2 separate regions of the Homo sapiens genome follow, and region 1 is linked to region 2. Evidence: fine-mapped expression QTL. Tissue or cell type: whole blood. Region 2 holds a variant in brackets; the other region holds the start of a gene. All regions are shown on one strand. Distances are from middle to middle.

Region 1 (5,152 bases), 21 kb after region 2:
TTTTTGAAGTGAATGAATGAATGAATACAAGTTCTACTAGGAATCAACTAGCCCACTTAATTCAATGAGCATCTACTCTTACAATAGACTTTTTATTTCTCCTCAACTGCTAAGTTTCTTTAAAAACCAAAAACCTACATGTTTGTATGTATTAGCCTGTTTCTGTTAGTGTTGAGTCACGCCCATAAAATTGAGCAAAATGACAGTGAGGGCACATAATGTGTCTAACAGGTGGCTGGCGTCATGAAGAAAGTCAGTAAGAACCCAGAATCATATTCTGAAACAATACAATTTTAGAACTGAATGTTTCTCTTCAATTTCCCTTCACTCAGTACTTTCTCTTCAATGCTTTTATTTTATGGAAATTTCTCAACATCTTGAGACGTCAGTCAGGCTTATTATCACGAATCTTGAAAAAAAATTAGGCTTAAGAGGAATCAGAGTGTAAATAATCCAATATCCACCTTCCTTTCCAGGAAATAGCCATCTTCTTGGGTATCAGGAAAAGGAAGATAAAGGGGACTCCTAAACTGACTTTCCCAGGGGCTCCCACTCCAGCTGCTCAGGTACCCAGTTAGCACTTTTCTTAATGTTCTGTGCTGACAGAGCTTCAAAGAGTGTGGTAAGTCATATTCATGTGCAAAGGTGAGAGTGAGGGAATGTGTTTAGGCCCATGTATGTTCCTCACAACAAAAGTGCAAAGGGGACAGAGACACAATGGAGAGGAAATGAGGACCCAGCTGTCCCAGGTTCTGTCTGAGGGAAAAGTCCTGCGGTGCTAAGCAAGCCCTTCCACACCTCAGAAGGGATTTCTCAACTGTAAAATGAGTGGCTGAACCAGATTCACAACACTCCTAATGCTGCAACTCCTTCAGTCTTGCTGGCTGTACAGTAGGCAGTCACAGACTATGGTGCCAGCCTTGGGTATGAAGGGCCCAGTTCAATGAAGAAAGACATTGAGACATCACCACATGGCCAGCAGCAGCTTCTGGTGCACAAATATCTGGGGAGGGGAAAGCACTTTCAGTGCCCAAGTGCAAGGAGCTGAAGTAGGCCTGCTGGAAAATGCCAAGGTGGTGCGCTGTCTCACCACTTTCTGCAGGGCCAGCAGAATTCCTCTGTGAGGGAATCTGCCTGGGTGATGGAGGCTCACCAGTGCCTCGTGACCAGAAGGCCATCTGCTTCTTCTTGATCAGGCCAGTGCTTAATGCTCAGATCTCTGAATTCAATGTAAGCTCAAGGTTTCGTGCTGAGCCTCTTGGGATTGCCAACACCTCAGGGGATACATTTTCCAGCTCCTACCCATATACCAGTCTCCCAGCTCAGCATTCTCATTTGGATCAAAAGTAATTTGTGCAAGCCTGATTTGTTAACACATCCCAAATCTGAATCCGTGTGCCTTTTAAAGGTGGCAAGCTGCCATTTATGAGCCATACGCACCTCTCCTTCCTCATCACCACTGCAGTAATCCCAAGAACCACAGGCATGAATAAAAGCCCGAACTTTTCGTTTTTGGTGACAGAAATTTCTCTTACAAGCTCCAGGAGATGATGAGGAAGACAGTGTTCTCTGTTTTCTGATTTTGCTTAATTTTTTAAAAATGAGCCTCTCCCTTGACTTGGTGACACAGCTGTGATCTTATCTGGCCGGCAGGGGGATGCTCCAGGTAGGACAAAGAGTGCTTTGTTTTGTTCTTACAGCAGCCACGCATAACTGGGCTCCAAAAACGCAATACTCCTCAAAGGGAGAGTGAGAGAGAGGGAGAGAGGGAGAAGGGTGTGTGAGAGAGAGAGCGGAGGGAGAGAGAGAGAGGAGGCAGAGTGAGAGGTGTGTAGTGGTGTGTGTGTGTGTGAGAGAGAGAGAGAGAGAGAGAGAGAGAGAGAGAGAGAGAGAGAGAGAGAGAGAGAGAGAGAGAGAGAGAGAGAGACGGAGAGAGAGATTGTCCCTGTAGGAGATCTACAGATAAGAAAACTCCGGGGCGGGCGCGGTGGCTCATGCCTGTAATCCCAGCATTTTGGGAGGCGGAGGCGGGCGAATCACGAGGTCAGGAGATCGAGACCATTGTGGCGAACACAGCGAAACCCCGTCTCTACTAAAAATTCAAAAAAATTAGCCGAGCGTGATACGGCACGCCAGCAGTCCCAGCTACTCGGGAAGTTGAGGCAGGAGAATTGCTTGAACCCGGGAGACAGAGGTTGCAGTGAGTCGAGATCGCGCCTCTGCACTCCAGCCTGGCGACAAAATGAGACTCCGCCTCAAAAGAAAGAAAGAAGGAACGAAAGAAAGAGAGAGAGAGAGAAAAAAAAGAAAAGAAAACTCCATGTGTTCCCTGCCTGTCCTGATTCTCCCCCCAGCTCTGAGCTCTTAGGGTTGCTTCCTTTCGGGAAAAGGTTTGGAAGAACTGGTGTCTAATACCGTCATCCTCTCCCTCTCCCCGCAAGGATCCTAGCGCTGTTTCCGAGGGCTGCAGGGACTGTGAGCCCAGGACCGGCCAGCAGAGCGGGTGCGACTCAGCGAGCCCACCCCGGCCGGTCGCCGCTCCGGGGTCCCGACCTCCAGCGCGGCGACCGTGCCCTTCCTCCCACTCCCGCCTCGCCCCCGGGGCCCCTCCTCACTCAGGCGCGGCGCGGAGCTGCTCGCGGGAACTGGGGTCCCTGGGCGCGTTCCACCGCGCACCAACGCGACCCAAGCGCTCCAAACCCGACTGCTTCTCGCCGACAGCACTGCGAGCCTCCGACCAGCCGCTGTCCCCCTGGCTGCGGGCCGAGCAGCTCTGGCAGGCGGCGGGCGGGTGGGCTGCGCGCGGGCTGTGTCCTGGGTCCGCCTAGCGCGGCCTTGTGGCCCCGACCCTCTCCTCCCCTGGTGATGCTGGAGGAGGTACCGGGGAGGAGCGTGTGTGGCCCCGGCCTCTCACTAGCAGCGGCGGCTCCCGACGCTAGCCTGCTCGAGCGCACCCAGCACCCTCCCCAAGACCATGGCCCGCACCTGGACCCGCGGTTAACTTAGCCCGCCGCGGAGAGAGCCAGGCAATGCCTGGGTGGTGTCGTGCTCACCAGCTCCTTTCCGCAGACCTGATGCCGATCAGATTTACTCCCTGCTGAATTCACCCCCCAGTCAGGCCGGTTTTCCTTGTTTCACCGTGTTCTCTGAATACACTGAATTACTCCGAGCATCTATAGTTGGCAATGCCCTGCGCATTTTCCGCACTCCGATACACTTTACACTGAACACCAATTCGGAAGTTGTGTGGACCGTGCTCCAGATTGGAAGGCCTGCCACTGTGCTGGTGTCATTTCTCCCTGGAAATGACAATGAAGGACAATCAGGAATAGCACTTAGGTCTGAGGAGAAATGGAGCTAGAAGGAGCCGTTTCATAGCTCAGTGTAACACAGAGTTATTTGGGGTTTAACTGAAACGCCTTCCTTCATCTTCCAATGTTTTCTCTTCAATCCACTTTCTAATAAATTAAAAACACACTCATTTAAAACTTCAGCTAGAAACTTAGGGAAAGTAGTTTGAAATTTATGTGTGGTGTTATTAAAATTTTATATTTTTAAATCGTGTTTTGGTTTTTGGTGAGGTGCCAGAACTGGAGATGAAATTTTGCTTATTTTGATTTTGAGTATTCTGCAGTAAGATGGCCTGAATTTTAGCTTGTTTCTCCCACTTATGAGTGGTGTGACCTTGGGGAAGTTCATCATCTCTGCTTCTCGGTCTCCTCATCCATAAAATCAAGAAAATCAAAATCAGTCAGTCAGAGGCAGTTTGTGAGCACGAAATGCAAATACATGTGAAATGCTTGGGACAGAGCTTGGCCTATGGGAAACATTCATTCAATATGTGTTATCTAATATTGATAGCTTAATGAAGCAGTGACTCATTTAAACCTAACAATAGATTTTATTTTTAATTTAAATGGAACTCTATCCGCCTAATGACATTGTCTTGTACTTCCTGGACTAACCCCCTGTAAAACAAATGGCCCACAAATATCAATCTAAAAGGATACATTATGCCCTACCAAAGACATCTCTAACGTCTTCTTTTGACCTTAAGACAAAGGTGAAGACAAAGTTGAAGTTGAAGACCTAATCCCACACTAAAAAGGTGGTAAGCTTTGAGAACAGCTCCTGAAAACAAGTATGCAACATTTTATTCACTTCTCTCATTGCCAGCAACATGTCATCTCCCATTGTCATTAGGTCATATTCTCTGAGCAGCCCCACAGCAGTTGGCATTTGGCAGGTTAGTGCCCTGAGAAGATGCCCAGTGAAGAGTGCCCAGATTTAGCAAATAAAAATGCAGAACATCTGGTGAAATTTGAATGTCAGATAAACAATAAATAGTTTTTTAGTATAAATATGCCCCATGCAATATTTGGGACATATACTAAAAAGTTATTTGTTGTTTATCTGAAATTCAGATTTAACTGGGCTTCCTGTATTATATCTGGCAACCCAGTAAGTAAAATTAATAAAGAATATTCCTCACATTCCAAGAGGATAAGTCAACACAGACATACAGATTATAAGGTGTGTCTGATATGGGTTGTTTTAGTTTTTTATGAGTTGGTTCTTTGTTATTCTGTTTCCTACATTTAATTCCTCCTCTCATTTCCCATTGACATAACAGTACCTATTTCCTCTTTAATATGAATGAAACTGATGTCTCACCTCTTCCCTTCAATCAAGATATTAAATTGTAATAATGTGCTCAATTTCTTTTTCTTTTCTTTTCTTTCTTTCTTTTTTTTTTCTTTTCTGGAGATATGGTCTCACTCTGTCACTCAGGCTGAAGTGCAGTGGCATGATCACAGCTCACTGCCGCCTTTACCTCCCAGGCTCAAGCAATCCTCCTACCTCAGCTTCCCAAGTAGCTAGGATCACAGACACATATCACCACACCTGGCTAAATTTTTTATTTTTATTTTTTGTAGAGACAGTGTCTCACTATGTTGCCCAGGTTGGTCTTGAACTCCTAGGCTCAAGCGATCTTCCTGCCTCAGCCTCTCAAAGTGCCAGGGTTACAGGTGTGAGCCACTGTGCCTTGCCATGCGCTCAACGTTTTTTTTTAAATTTGAATAGTGTTTACTGAGGTGAGGGCCAGCTGTATGTCAGGTACCATTTCAAGGATGAATAAGACACAGTCCTT
Region 2 (5,152 bases):
TAGGTCACCAACCACCTCTCCTTTCACTGCAATGTACCTGCTCATTTCGTATATGTGTCTCCTCCTCTTGTTTCAGGGTTCTAAGGTAGAGCCAAGACTTGTCCCCTATTTCTGCAGCAGATTGGTCCTTGAAATAGTAAGTTGCAGATGCAGATCTATCTCTATAATACAAGCAAAATTATTATTTATGCATGCTCCTTCCCTTCCTCATCTGACCCATGTTTCTCAGTTCCATCCTTGACTCAACTTCCTCTGATCTTTTGACTTCCCTTTCTTCTTCCACTCTATATTTTCTCTTAAATTAAAGAAGACTGTAAAAGAGTTCCAGGAAAAAAACCTTATTGTCTATCATCAAGTTGCAGGTAAACTCAATCCATTCTATCTTCCTAATTCTGGGAGGCAATGTTAGCCATGTTGAAACTCAGTCTCAGGAATCAAATCCCGGCACTGCCACTTACTAGTTGTGTGACTTTGGGCAAATTACCCTTTATCACCTCTATATTCCTCTTCCTTAAAACAACAACAATAATAATAATAACCATCTCATAGGATTGTTATGAAGACTGAATGAAATGGCGTATTAAAAACATTTCGCATAGGACATGGCAGGCAATAAACACTCTAGAAATGTTAGGTGCTTTTAAGTCTTTTAAGTCGATAAACTCAATCTCCTTTTTTGCTCATGATGTTACCATACTTGAAAGTTCCATCAACATTTTAAATAAACTTTTATGAAAATTAGAAACATAGTTATGAGCATTGACATTCCCTGTAGTTGGCCAAAGAGCCCAATTATATCAGGTAACATACCTGTGTTCTACAGCAGCAACTATAAACCCATGAGATGCCAGGTCAATGCCAATAGCAGAATAAAGTGTCCTTCAAAACAAAAAGAGGGAAGAATTACAACTACCAGTCATGATTACAAGGCTGAGTCCACTAATAAAACTGGGAACATGGAGGCCATTACACCCCTGTAGTAGTGCCCTGGGGTGGAGTGGAGAGCTACGGTTCTTAAAGGAGGGTGATTTTGTTCCTTAGGGGATATTTGACAATGTCTGGAGGTATTTTCATTATCATGAATGTGGGCGAGGGTATTTCTGGTGTCTAGTGGGTAAAGGGATGCTGTCAAGCATCCTACAATGCACAGGGCAACCCTTCACAACAAGAGATTATCTGGTCCAAAATGTCAAGACTACTAAAGTTGAGAAAACCCAGGGCAGTGATTATAAATATTGCCTTTGAGAGTTTTGGGTTTTTAATCTTGGCTCTGCCACTTCCCAGCTATATGATTTTAGGTAATTACTGCATTTTTGTCCTCACCTGTAAAATGGGCCTAAGAGTAAAGCATTTGTTTTAGGGTAGTTGTAAGGTTTTGCTAAGATAATGTATATAGGAAAGCAGTACAGTATTGTAGTTACAAGAATGAGACCTGCAGTCTGACCACTGAGTTTGAACCCTGGTTCTACCACTTGTTAGCTGTGTACCTTTAATAAGTCACAATATTTTTGCTGCCTTGGTTCCTTATCTATAAAATGGTGACACTATAATAGTATGCTACCTCATCAGTGAGGATCAATTGAATTAATACATTTTCAGTACTTATATTAGAAACAGGTAAATACTTAACACATGTTAGCTATTATTTAAATGATTGGACTGGGTGAAATAGTTGAAAAATCATGTGCTAAGCACTGCATTTATGCCCTCTTCCACAGCTTCATTTGCACAACCTTTTCCTCATACCATGCATTCAATAGGAAATGTCCACAGAGAATAAAAAGGAGGTAGCTAGAAACTATTTATTTATTGCTGAAGATACAGGACCTTTTCAAGAGGGGGGAATGATATAGCACAGGGATTAGCAAACTTTTTCTGTTGAAGGCCAGAGAGTAAATATTTCCAGGTTTGTGGGCCATAGTCTTTGTCACCACTACTGAACTCTGCTGTTGTAGGACAAAAGTAGCCATAGACAGTGTACAAAAATGAATGGGTGTGGCTGTGTTCTAATAAAACTTTATAGAAATAGGCAGTGGGCTGGATTTGGCCCTTGGGTTCTAATTTGCCAGTCACTAATGTAGGAGAAATCAAATAGCTAGCTGAACTACATTTACAGTGCTGAAGAGAATTCTTTATTGCAAGTGCTACCCAACTTCTTCCCAGCTAAAAGCCATCTCTCTTATTTTCTGAGTTTTACAATCCCTTGAAGTAGAAGAGGGGTGACAGGTGAGAAAGTGGTGGAAGAAAGTGAAGAGGGTGGTTGTTGTTATGAAAATGTGCCACTCAGCTATCATGCTACAGACTGCATAGCTTACTAAAGACC[C/G]TATCCAGCTCCTGCCCCTCTGTATCCATCACCATGGTCAAGTGGAAGCTAAGCATCCAGTGAGCTGCTCCCAGAGACTTGGCACAGCATGGGTACTAACATTAGCCCATTCCTATGAGATACAGGACTCTTGATAAGCAAATATAGTCCAGCACTCCTTCCATTGGCCTGGCTCAATATTTCTTAGAACCATGCTTCATTCTGAAGCTCTTCTTATCCAATCCTTCTCCCTTCCCCATCACCTTTTCAGGTGTCCAACCTGTGTCATGGTCCAAAGGTTCTCCCCATCTTTTCCTGCTCCTTCTCTTGCCTTCACAGATATTTCTCTTAATAACAGTCTTTCCCAGCTAATCTAAAATTGGTTTCTCAAAAGTTCTAAACTTTACAGAGGATAATTTTAAGAGTGTAAATATTACAATAATGAAGGACAACTATAGAAAATGCAACACCCTTTCTTCTCTGCTGTGAGGCTAATCCCAATGAGCTGATAGTAGGGAAAAAACTACTTGACCAGACAGGTCTAGGACTGATCAATAGACCCACAGCCAATTATTGAGGAAACCCAACTCCTCCAGACAAGGGCCTGCATGACATTCCAAACTCTGCTATTTCTTTCTTGAATAAAAAAATTGTCATTTATTCCTGGAAGCCAAAATTGTTCAACCTCTCAAACATTACCTGAATGCCCCAAGACCATGAGAAAAAACAACAAGTGGATATTTTTCACCAGGCCTCAGAGGGGAATTCCAGTTTGCAGGAGTTGTCATTGAACCTAGACAACAATGGAAGGTTATAGTTAAGGTTTTCTCTGAGTGTTGCTAGTGAATTTAATTCATATCTCATTAGCATAAAATGCAGACCCATCTGATTTATATCTACTTTTTTATGGATGAATAGTAGATTCATTAAAAAGACTGCTACTAGATACCCACCAACCAAAGAGCTGAACTGTAAGTTTTTTTTTTTTTTTTGAGATGGAGTTTTGCTCTTGTTGCCCAGGCTGGAGTGCAATGGCACAATCTCGGCTCACTGCAAACTCTGCCTCCCGGGTTCAAGCGATTCTCCTGCCTCAGCCTCCCGATTAGCTGAGATTACAAGCATGCGCCACCACGCCTGGCTAATTTTATATTTTTAGTAGAGATGGGGTTTCTCCATGTTGGTCAGGCTGGTCGTGAACTCCCGACCTCAGGTGATCCACCTGCCTCAGCCTCCCAAAGTGCTGGGATTACAGGCGTGAGCCACCGCACCCGGCGTAAGTTCTTTCCTCAGACCATAGGATCATTAACGATGAGTTCTTACTGACAGCTCTGGACTTAAGGTGAGAGATTTTCCCACTTATAGGTGTATTCATAAAGGCTGCTACTTACTGCCATTCCCAGGTTTTGGAAAAATTTTAAAGGGAATGTTCTGAAACCAAACTACCCATAAAACCTTGGATACATTACACTAAGAGCCAGAATCTAAGAAACAGAGACTCTGTTCATTATGATTTGGTCATAATCATGCAGGAAAAGGTAGAGAAACCACTGACTTCATACTGAGTCATGGATGCAGCTCTGCCACTTCCTAACTATGGATCTTGGGCAAGTTCCTTAAACTTTCTGTACTTCAGATTCCTCTTCTGTAAACTTCAGAAAATGATATCTCTTTCATAGGGTTTTTGTGAGAATTTTATTTAATTAGGTAATATATGTAAAGCAGTGGTGCAATCCATCACATAGTAAGGGGCTCAAAAAATGGAAATATTGTCTTCTTTCACTTCTCAATTTTTATTGTCACCATTATTATCAGCAATCATTTGTGTTTCATTTTCTCATCTATAAAATGCAGATGCAGTCATAAAGACTGAATGTGATGATTGCTATGGAAGTGATTTATAAATTATTTTGCAACATAAATATGCAGAGTTATGCTATTTTCATGTCTGTTATAAGTGGTTTTTAAGAAAATTAAAAGCCGATGTTTAAGATGAATCCCAAAATTTGTAGATCGTTTTGAGGGGTAAATGTGAAGACACAGTTAACATCAGTCCAACAGTAGTGTCTAGTCAAACAGATAAGGAAGGAAAAGTCTATATTAGCAGAATGTAGACAGTAAGTGAAGAATACACATCAGATTGTCTTAGCGATGGGGGTAGGTGATGGGAATGAGAGTAGAGTCTCTTCATGTATGACAAGAAAGGCATTAGCTTTGACTCCTTTGTTTTGGATCTGGAGAGTTTGATGGCTTCTACTTTCTTTCTCTTTTTGTCTAACTTTAGCACAGAGCATGCGGGATAGTGGCCACACCAAATAACCTGCTATTCTCACCACGGTATTGCCTTCTCCATGGTATGTCAGATGAAAACTAAAGAGCAGCCACAGAAAGATGTCAGAGTCAGTCTGATACTCTCGGCCACTCCCATCCAACTCAGAATGGACAAAATGAGAACCTTGATTCTGTCGTAGTTGCCTGGGCTTTAAAGAAATACTTTCCTTATCATTTTAGGAGCTATTTGGACTGAAGAAAAATCTACTTTGGTCTTAACTACTTGAAGTTCTTGTTGTTTTCAAGGTTTTCATACATGCAAGAGCCTACAAAGAAGGATCAACAGAAATCTTACCAAAGAGTAACCTCAAAATGTTGCCCATAAGCCAGTGTGTTCCAAGAAATTTGCTAAGACCCCAAAAATATTCTTTATTTGGGATCCAAAGGGTGTCAAGGCGATCATTATCTTGGGATGGATAATATAAACGCAAGAAGGTGCCCTGTTAAGAAAGAAATTAATGCACTTTTAGAGAAGTTGTGTCTCAAACATATTCCAGCAGCTATTTTGCATATTTAATTAGT

What was found. PIP is the estimated chance that this variant, and not a neighbour inherited with it, causes the effect.
Region 1: it holds the start of PLA2G7, and the variant in region 2 is fine-mapped to the expression of PLA2G7 in whole blood (TOPMed, PIP above 0.99).

The regions. Positions count from the first base shown.
Region 1 is chr6:46,732,565-46,737,716 of GRCh38, forward strand. It overlaps PLA2G7 (phospholipase A2 group VII), which reads right to left and starts at 2,811. Exons shown (of 12, transcript NM_005084.4): 1 at 2,616-2,811.
Region 2 is chr6:46,711,459-46,716,610 of GRCh38, forward strand. PLA2G7 (phospholipase A2 group VII) reads right to left here. Exons shown (of 12, transcript NM_005084.4): 4 at 4,926-5,070; 5 at 3,002-3,095; 6 at 811-879; 7 at 38-161. Among named protein-coding and RNA genes, the nearest start is that of PLA2G7, 21 kb to the right of the region's middle. The variant C/G (reference allele first, on the strand shown) is at 2,324.